3 linked regions of the Homo sapiens genome follow. The protein of the gene in region 2 purifies or fractionates together with the protein of the main gene of each other region. This does not show direct contact. Each region holds a gene or a part of one and is shown on either strand. Other genes may lie near its edges. The genes, in order: PFDN4, DDB2 and COPS7A.

Evidence for each region.
Region 1: the proteins of DDB2 (region 2) and PFDN4 purify together in Homo sapiens (affinity purification with mass spectrometry; 4 studies listed by BioGRID and IntAct, with this or other methods). This does not show direct contact.
Region 3: the proteins of DDB2 (region 2) and COPS7A purify together in Homo sapiens (affinity purification with mass spectrometry; 7 studies listed by BioGRID and IntAct, with this or other methods). This does not show direct contact.

What each region holds. Positions count from the first base shown.
Region 1 is NC_000020.11:54,214,539-54,218,190, reverse strand, and holds part of PFDN4 (prefoldin subunit 4), read right to left. Parts: intron 2,894-3,652; coding exon of another isoform or gene 2,892-2,893; coding exon 2,751-2,891; intron 1-2,750. UniProt on the Homo sapiens protein: Binds specifically to cytosolic chaperonin (c-CPN) and transfers target proteins to it. Binds to nascent polypeptide chain and promotes folding in an environment in which there are many competing pathways for nonnative proteins.
Region 2 is NC_000011.10:47,231,940-47,235,591, reverse strand, and holds part of DDB2 (DNA damage-binding protein 2), read right to left. Parts: intron 2,779-3,652; coding exon 2,633-2,778; intron 1,020-2,632; coding exon 920-1,019; intron 836-919; coding exon 658-835; intron 323-657; coding exon 180-322; intron 1-179.
Region 3 is NC_000012.12:6,726,896-6,729,707, reverse strand, and holds part of COPS7A (COP9 signalosome complex subunit 7a), read right to left. Parts: intron 1,783-2,812; coding exon 1,707-1,782; intron 1,486-1,706; coding exon 1,397-1,485; intron 462-1,396; coding exon 259-461; intron 1-258.

The sequences.
Region 1 (3,652 bases), on a different chromosome or scaffold from region 2:
AAAAAAAAAAAAAAGCCATTAAGTTCCTTCCTGGCTAGGATCAAAACAATTTTTTTTCCTAAACATGACAAAAAAATATGAAATCACACAAACCAAATACCCACTAACATTAGAAACCAAAGAATATCTAATACTGACAGTGTTGCCGTTTTAGAAATCTAGCCAATGGTTCTCAAACGGTGGCCCCGAGACCAGTGTCAGGGACAAAATCACCTGGGAACTTGTTAGAAATACACATTCTGGGGCCCTACCTCAGCCCACCTGAAAGATCGTCTTTGGGTCGGGCCCAGCAACCTGGATTTTTAACAAGCCCTGTGGTGACTGTGATTCTCACGCATGCTAAGTTTGAGAATCACTGTTACAAAACAAGAAACAAAAATAAGACATATGGCTACTAGAAAGGGATAAATTCTAAATTTCTATACCGAGAAAACCTGGTTAATAAGTAAAATAAGACACTAGAAAGTCATTTTAATATCGCAAGTCCAATCATCTCTCTCTTTTCCAAAAATCTCTGAAGGCTCCTCTTTGCTCTGGGACGGGAGTGGGCAAACTATAGCCCACAGGCCCAATCTAGCCTGAAGCTTGTTTTTGTCAAGTTTTATTGGAAGACAGCCACGCAGATTCACTCATCTTGCTTTCATAGTAATTATGGCAGAGGCTGTGCAGCCCACAAAACCTAACGTATTTACTTCTGGCCCTTCACAGAAAGTTTGCTGACCCCTGCTAAGACAAAGTACAATTTCTTCAACTCAACTGACTGGAGTTCTCCAAGATGTGGCCACAATTTCAGGTGCTCCCAATCTCCAGCAAATACATCTTCTTGCAGGTCTATGTTTGCACCACCGTCATCCTATGGCCGTTCACACATGTTGCTTCTCACGACTAGAACCCCCCGCCCCCCGCCGCCCCTTTCTGGCTAATAGCCACTTATTCCTCAGCTGTTATCCCATCACTTTCCCTGGGAGCCCTTCCCTGACCCTTGATGTCCAGACTAGTGTAGATTCCTCTTCCTGTGTTCTTAAAGCCACCTCTATCCTCATATCACTTTCTACTCATTATCAGTTTTGTTTACTTTTTTTTCTTTCCATCTAGACTATATGCTCCATGCAGGCAGGGGCCAGGCAGGTTTTGTTGTCCCCAATTATCCCTAGTACATGGCAGAACCTGATACAGAGTAAGCACTCCATTCATTCTAGAATTCTAGAATGAGTAAAAAAAGAAAGGTTCAGCCGGGTGTGGTGGCTCACGCCTGTAATCCCAGCACTTTGGGAGGCTGAGGCGGGTGGATCACGAGCACGAGGTCAGGAGTTCGAGACCAGTCTGCCCAACATGGTGAAACCCTGTCTCTACCAAAAGTACAAAAATTAGCTGGGCGTGGTGGTGGGCGCCTGTAATCCCAGCTACTCGGGAGGCTGAGGCAGGAGAATTGTTTGAACCCAGGAGGCAGACGTTGCAGTGAGCCGAGATTGCGCCATTGCACTCCAGCCTGGGCGACAGGGCAAGACTCCATCTCAAAAAATAAATAAATAAATAAATAAATAAAATAAAATAAAAGTTCAGTAGCTATCTGTGTATGGGGCAGGGGATTCACAATAGCCACAAAAACCATAAGCTATCTGGGAATACTTCCAATAAAAATGTTTTTTAAATGGTTAAACAAATAAAAAGAACAAAAATCACAAAATTTGACCAAGAAGAAAAGATTTAAACATAAGGGAGACATATAAGATTTATGCATGGAAAGACCCAGGAGTGATAGTTCTTCTGAAGACTTACTAAATGTGGGTTTCATTCATACGAAGTTTTGCTTTTTATGACATTTGAAGAGAGACTATCATTTTAAGCAATCAGGTTAATTAGCAAAAGCATTAGGAAAGGTTTAATTGCCATCTGCTTCTCATAGACAAACAACGTGGCTGTCCCTCCCAAATAGTAAGAAGGCATGTGAACTGAAAATTTCATACCATGTATCAAATGTCTCAGATATTATCAGAGAACTCATATGCTGACTGACCCAGTAATTATATTTCTCTAATTATTTCCTCAAAACAATTTTCTAAATGTGAACAAAGATTTATGTAGAAGAATGCTCACAGTAACATTAGTACAGCAAAATATTGGAAACAAATTAATGCTAACAATAAGACCCGTGACCCCAATTGATAACCATCAACATGATATTAAACAGTCTTCAAAAACGATGTTTTTAAAGGCCTGTGTGCCAGGCTCAGAGCAGGCTTCCAATGAGTATCTGCTGGACAAACAAACATTCAATGAAACCAGCAAAAATGCTCCTCCTGGAACATTAATTGTCCCAACTGGGAAGCAAACTACACGGAGAGAGGCAGAGAGAACATAAAAGAAATACAGGAAAATGTTCACTATGAATGGTTACCTCTGCATAGCAGAATTACAGGGGATTTTTCTTTTCTGCTTCAATATATGCTATACCTTCTAAATACTTTTAGTTTTGAGCAAGGTTCTGGAGTCAGAAGACCACTGTCTATGTGTCACTTTGAATAAATCCCATAACCTCTCTAAGCCTCTATTCTTTGTCCCTAAATTGGGATAACAGGTCATCGTTATGATTCAACAAAATCCTGCTGGCAAAGCATTCGGAGCATGCCTGGGACATAACAAGGCAGTAAATATTAGCTATAGCTAGCATCTACTATTTCCCTACATCTATAATTACATGTTCTTTATAGTGATATAAATTCTAATTTCAGAATTAACCTTTAACATACCTTTGCTTCTTCTAACATTTCTTGCGTTTCTTCTTGAGAATGGCTAATGAAGACATCACCAATTTGATAAGGTATCATTAAGCAATCATCATCTGCAAGCATGATGTCATCACAAGCATCTTCTAGGTTTTGGAGTTGTTTCTATAAATGCAAAATGGCAAAGAAAATGTACTCAAAGTTCTCTGATAGAAGCTAAAGGCCAATTGTAATTTGGGGACAGCAACTCTCTGAGGGACCCTCTCACAAAGGTATTATTACCACATTAGAATAAGACCTTAATTTGTAACTTTTTAGAAGACATTTCACAAGCAAGCACTTAGAGCTACCTAAAGCTTTGTCCTCTGGACAATAAGCGCCCTGTGGTGGACAGCAGGCACATGGTCACTCAAAATTTCTTCTATTTTAACAATTTTTGACTTTGTGAATTCTGCCTTCCTACAAAAACAAAACCAAAAAAACCAGCCTACATTTCTCAGCCTTGCTTGCTGATAGGGTGTAAGTAAATCATGCGGGTAATGAAAGTTCTGCCAGCATGCATAAGTGATAATAACTTCAATTCCACCAATCAAATGCATTTGAGCTGGATTTCAACTCAAGGGGGACGGCTGGACACAGGCCCCAGATTTACTGGGGTAGGTGGCACTGGCAGCAGCAGCTTGGTGTTCCTAAGTCTGCAAGGGTGGCTTCCTCATTGGGAAGACAGCTGACTCTGGGATCAGTGGAGGCAACAGCTGTTCCACCGCCAGCCAAGTTCTCCGAGACTTGTTCCTGGAACCTCGGTCTAGACTCAAGCTCCTCAACAACTCTGTAAGTTATCGCATATCCCTTAAAAAAAAAATGACTTTCTGCTTAACTAGAGTGGATCGCGTCATTCATCTGCAACAAACAGCCCAGAGAAATAT
Region 2 (3,652 bases):
TGGCAGAAGTGGGATAAAAGGAAGAGAGAGAGCCAATGGGTAAGAGATGCTCTGTGCTCGGGCCAGGAGCGATCTGGGGTGGCAGGCTTACCACATCAGCCCTTCCCCACTGTGGGCAGACCTGCTCCGGCCTCATGATCACAGCCTCCTTCTGCGAGCTCCTTCCCACCGCCACTCACCTTGATGGGTGTGAGGTGCTGGAAGTGACGGTGAGGGTGCGGGATCAGGCCCAGGGGGCAGTCCCACTGGGAAGCAGAGTAAACTCGGATCTCGCTCTTCTGGTCCGTGGTCAGGAGCCGGGCTCCATCGGGACTGAAACAAGCTGGCAAAGTGAAAAGCCCCTGAGCTGAAGGAACCACAAGCCCTCTGTGGTCCTGGCCTTGCAGGCCTTCTCCTGCAGGGGTACTCTCCCTCCCACTCCTCTCTAGACAGGAGCGGAAAGGAAGAGGTGAATCTGGGCTGTGAACAACAACAAAAAAATTCTGGAAACTCAGCAGCTGATGGGGACAGCCACAGCCACAAAGGTTCCCAGACATCAGCTTGGCAGACGCTATCAGGGGTAAAGGTTTGACGTAGTGGCTTCCACACTGAGGGAAAACCCCAGCAGTGGTCAGACAGGCAGGGTCTGCAGGAGAGATGAGGTCTGGGATATCACACCTGCGTTGACAGGATGCCTGTGCGGCAGCGAGTAGAGGAAGCTGGCTTTCCCTCTAACCTGGCGCAGGTCCCAAATTTTCACTGTTTGATCTACGGAGGCTGTGGCCAGGAACCAATCACAGCATGGGTTCAGGGCCACATGCGTCACTTTCTTTTTGTGCATTCTGAGATTCCAAAGCTGCAGAGAAGAGCTCGGTTCAGGTGGGGACACAGAACCGAGGTGGGGGTGAGGGAGGGAAAGGCAGGACCTCGGAGAACGCACCTCTTTGCCGTCCATGTTCAGCAGGATCACGTTCCCCACGTTGTCTCCTGTGACCACCATTCGGCTACTAGCAGACACATCCAGGCTACAAAACCAGATGCTGGAGGGAGAGACTGTGTTGTAAGATTCTTGGGGACAGAGATAGTCCTATTTACTCACTGTTGCCGCTCCGGTGACTAACCCACAGCGGGCATTCAATAAATATTTGTTGAATGAATGAATAACTGTCTTGCCGTGGATTCCTAGTGAGGAACATTCAGACTGCTCTACCGTCCAGACAGAGGGGATGGGATAATGGGGCTCAGAAATCTGTCTGGTTATGGCTGGGCCCAGGATCCCCAGCTCCTAAAAGTCCCTGAAGCAGACAAAGCTTATACCATAAAGCAAGCCCTGAGGCACGCCTGCCCCCCACACCCCGGGTTCTGAGCAAGCCTCCTTTACTGCTCTCTCCTTTCACTCTTCACCCTTTAGGCCAAAGGAGACACAAGCCAAAGAGGGATTGCCTGGCCCTGTTCCTCAGAGCTGGCTAGAAAAGCACTTCTGCCCCCTTCTGAACACTGGGGGAAAAAACACAACCAGGAGCTCTTCTGGTCCCTCAAACCACTGGACTGGGAGGCTGACTAGGAGGGTGCTTCAGGGATCCTGCTATTCAGCCAGAAGAGCTCAGCTCACAGTTTTTCTCTCAAACTCTCAAATCCATGCTACACTGCCTTTTGCCATCCCCTATGAATATCTTCAAGCAGGAAGATTTCTTGCGGAAGAGTAGCCTGGAGCCTTGTCTATCCAATTGCCTGCTGATTTGCGTGCGCATGCACTCCTCATCCCTGCGGGACAGCCCAGGATCCAATCCAATGCTAGTTACACCCCAGCACCCTCACTTAATTCCTCAGGGAGCAGTCAGAGTCACGGCTCTAGCTGGAAATCAAAGTGACGAGTATTCTGTAATTTTTTTTTTTTTTTTTTGAGATAGATTTTCGCTCTTGTTGCCCAGGATGGAGTGCAATGGCGCCATCTCGGCTCACTGCAACCTCTGCCTCCTGGGTTCAAGCGATTCTCTTGCTTCAGCCTCCCAAGTAGCTGGGAATTACAGGGGCCTACCACCACGCCCAGCTAATTTTTTGTATTGTTAGTAGAGATGGGGGTTTCACCATGTTGGCCAGGCTGGTCTCGAACTCCTGACCTCAGGTGATCCACCCACCTTGGCCTCCCAAAGTGCTGGGATTTCAAGCATGAGCCACTGCACCCGGCCGCATTCTGTAATTTCTCCAGCCACTTTCTCTTGGGAAGTCCAGAGCACTTTATGGAAAAGATTCCATCCATATAAGCTTCCACCCAGGAACAGGTCAGGTCATTACACCACAGTGAGTGCAGGGCATTCAGTCTCAAGTTCTGAGCTGTTGCTCCATTCTCTAGGTGGCTTTCTGGGTCCACGCCATGCTGGCTTATCTAGTGAGGGTCAAGGTCCAGTCTAATACAGGTATGACTTACAGAAGAGCTGAGGCTCCAGAACACCTTCCCAAAGCAGTAACCCACCTGGACCAAAGTGAGGGCAGCCAAGGAGCAGTTTGAGAAAGAGAAAGAAGGGCGGAAAGTGGCTGACATCTTTCCTTTCTTCCCTGGGCCAGGTTGGGTTAAGGAAATGGGATCTGGATGCTCTTGCCGGAACTACACCTAAGCTTAGAAGCCCTTTCCCCTGCTAGTTAAACTACTCACTTGATGGTGTCTGAGCTGGCAAAAACTCGTAGAATGTTGCCTTTAAAGTCTTGCAGCCTAGTTGTTCCCTCCATTGAGGAGGCGTAAAACTGGTTGGTATTGAGAGGGTTAAACTTCAGCCCAGTGATGCTCCCTCCAGCTCCAATCTAACACGAGGAAGGAAAAAGCCAGTGAGTGATGATGGGCCTGGCCGTGAGGAACCAGGCCTGGGCACACATGCTGCGCCGTCACAGAAGCACCCCTCGAGCAGCGCTTGGGGCCAGGTCAGCTTAGACACTAGGACGCTCTCTACAGGGCCTTCACTTCTTTTTCTTTTCCTTTGAAATAGGGTCTTTCTCTGTCACTTAGGCTGAAGTGCAGTGGCACAAACACGGCTCACTGCAGCCTCAATCTCCTGGGCTCAAGCGATCCTCCCACCTCAGCCTCCCAAGTGCGTGCCACCATGCCCAGCTAATTTTTCTATTTTTTTTTTTTAAGATGGGGTTTTGTCACGTTGCCCAAGCTGGTCTTGAACTCCTAAGCTCAAGCGATCCCCCTGCCACGGCTTCCCAAAGTGCTAAGATTACAGGCATGAGCCGCTTTGTCTGGCCCCTTCATTTCTTTCTTTTTTTTATTTTTATTTTTATTTTTATGTTTTTGAGATGGAGTCCTGCTCTGTCACGACCTCGGCTCACTGCAACCTCTGCCTTCCAGGTTCAAGCGATTCTCCTGCCTCAGCCTCCCAAGCAGCTGGGATTACAGGTGCCCACCACCACGCATGGCTAAATTGTATATTTTTAGTAGAGACAGGGTTTCACCATGTTGGCCAGGCTGGTCTGGAACTCCTGCCCTCAGGTAATCCGCCACCCTTGGCCTCCCAAAGTGCTGGGATTACAGGCGTGAGCCACCGTGCCCCGCCTCCCTTCATTTCTTAAGGCTTTATTTTTACTTTTTTTTTTAATTAACATATAGCAAATTTGGGATATAAAGTTCTCTGAATTTTAACATATGTATAGACTTAAATAACCACCACCCAAATCA
Region 3 (2,812 bases), on a different chromosome or scaffold from region 2:
TGCTGGTTAGGATCCCCTTAAGTATACCACTCCCTTTTCCTCCCCCAACTACTATATCAAGGACACTGACTTCTGCCGCCTCCCAGGGCCTCCCCTACTCCTGCATTCCCCAGAAGCCTTTGGAGGGATGAACTCATTTCCCTTCATCCTCTTGGGTTCCACCTCTGCGGACCAGCCCAGCTCCTGCCCTCTCTCACCCTGAAGCGCCTTTCTCTTTCTCAGGGTGAGAAGGGGACAGTGCCAGGATACGGTTCTCACCATTCCTGCAGGGTTCGGGCAATGGCACTGAGGTCCTGGCGCTGGATGTCCCGCCCGATGCTGTAGTCAACCTCGAGCCGCTGGTTGCGCTGGTCCAGGGAGCCACGAAGCACGTCAGCATACACAGCCTCAATCACAAGGTCTTCCAGCTGCCGCACATTACGCAGGGCAAGAGCCTCCAGCAACACTGCATATGGGATACACTGGGGCCGCGGAGATCAGGCCAGGATTTGTGACGCTCCGTAGTAGAGAAGGGCTTCCAAAAATCTTCCCTCCTTTTCCCCCTGCCCTAGCCCACCTGCCCTCCACTCCCATTCCTAAATCACTTCCTCTAAGAGGCTGGTTCTAAAGCAAAATAAATAAAAGTATTCCCACTTCAAAAACAGCATCATTAGAAGGACAATCTTAAATAAAATACAAAATGCTCCCCTAACACCCTCACCCCTGACACACCACAGAAGGAGAAAATGACATCTGCCTGGGTGTCACTCCTTTAGCCACAGCTCAGGGTATCACCCAGTCCTTAGTCAAGATCAGCTTGATACAGGGGAGTAAGCAGAAGTGGGAGAGGTGTGGAGTTACTGTTTATCATTTATACTCTGCCTACCTGCAACGGGCATTCCTTTGGAGGTATCTCTCAATAGAGAGCCTGGTTTAAATTAAATCCCAAGGACAACTGAGAGTCAAGTAACTATTGCGAGGTTGCAGACTGGGCAGGCTGGGGAGGTGGGTGGTGATATTAGACAAAAAACAGCCTAACAGGAATACAGAGATACTTCTAGAATATATATGTTTTATCCTAACAAAGAGAAGCCTAGCACTTCATCAGGAGAGCCCTGTTTCCAGCAGTGGGGAAGAAGGTATTGTTGAACGACACCTGAACAACATCCTAGTTGCTATTTTGACCAAAACCACAGAAGATGTTTATTTAGAACTTAAGTTGATTAAAAAATAAAAACAACACAGAAAACTAAGAATACTATCAGCCTAAACAGTTGCTAATGGAGTTTATATACAGACCTTGGAGGAGGGGAGGGCAGGAAGCAGCCACGGTCTAGACAAGGGCTGTCCTAGTGTGGACTCCCAAGGACATACAAAAGGATGCTCTAGACCGTAGGACTGGGGGACTGCCACTCACCTTTACTTTAGCAGCCAGGGTGACAACTGAGAGGTGTCGAAGCTTATTCTTCTGAGCCTCTGTTAGTGGAGGAAGATTCCGGGCTTCAGCTAGGGAAAAACGACAAAGTGTAAGGAATCCTGATTTCAGTTTTCTGGGAAGCCCTAGCCTCCTTCCCTTCCCTCCCACTTTCAATGCCAATTCAGGTCTTGACCCTGACCCTATGCATCCAGGGATCTAAGTGGGATATCCCAGGAATTTCTTCTGAGTCCCTCCAGAAATTGCCCTTCTCCCATCTCCATTACTCCAGAGCACCAACCCCTCTGGTTACCTAAGTAGTCAGCGTATGTCCCATAAGCAAACACTGTGAGCAGCCGGAAGGTAGAGGCAAAGTCACTCTCAGCCAGCTGCGAGAATGAGGAAAAAGGAGGTGACGGGAAGTCTTCCCTCTCCACCCTCCCAGCCTTACCCTGTTTGGAACTCCACTTTTTGGCCCCATCTTTCCCGGCCAATGTTAACTCTCCTGGCTCACCAAAAGGAGTTCTCTGCCTCTCTGATCACTCTTCACATAGGAAGGGCTCATTTCCACCTTCAGGCTTTTGTTTACACTATTCTCCCAAACCACAATGCCCTCTTGCTCCATACGTCATCCAATTCCTACCCTAAATTCAGAGTTGAAGACATTCAGTTTTCAGAGTCAAACAGACATACACACCAGACACTGCAAATTGTGTTGCCTGCCCTCAGAGTGTTTGATGTTTCTAAATTGGAATATGTCTAGACAGTCTCCAGTACTCCCCAATTCACCAGACTCCTGCCTCAGCCTCACTCATCTCTGACAGCTGCACAGCCTAGAAAGACATCTAAACTTATGGTCTCTGCTTCAGACACACCTGACCAGGACACTGTCTTGCATCACCCAGCCCAGTCCACCCAGATTTCCTCTCCTCCTATCATGGATCACTCATTCTGGCACTTTTTTTTTTTTTTTTTTTTGAGACAGAGTCTCCCTCTGTTACCCAGGCTGGAGTGCAGTGGCGCGATCTTGGCTCACTGCAACCTCCGCCTCCCAGGTTCAGGCAATTCTCCTGCCTCAGCCTCCCAAGCAGGTGGGATTACAGGCGTGCACCACCACACCAGGCTAATTTTTGTATTTTTAGTAGAAACAGGGTTTCGCCACATTGGCCAGGCTGGTCTCGAACTCCTGACCTCAGGTGATCCACCTGCCTTGGCCTCCCAAAGTGCTGGGATTATAGGCGTGAGCCACTGTGCTCAGCTTCATTCTGGCACTTAATCAATCAATCCTTGCAGAAGGTTGCTACCTAAGAATATCTTTCAACAAGATTATAGACCCAGTCTCAGGTATCCCACAGAGCTATGCAGTAATTGCCTCGCAAGAAATACTTGCTAAATAAATAAATAATTCAGATTTCTATC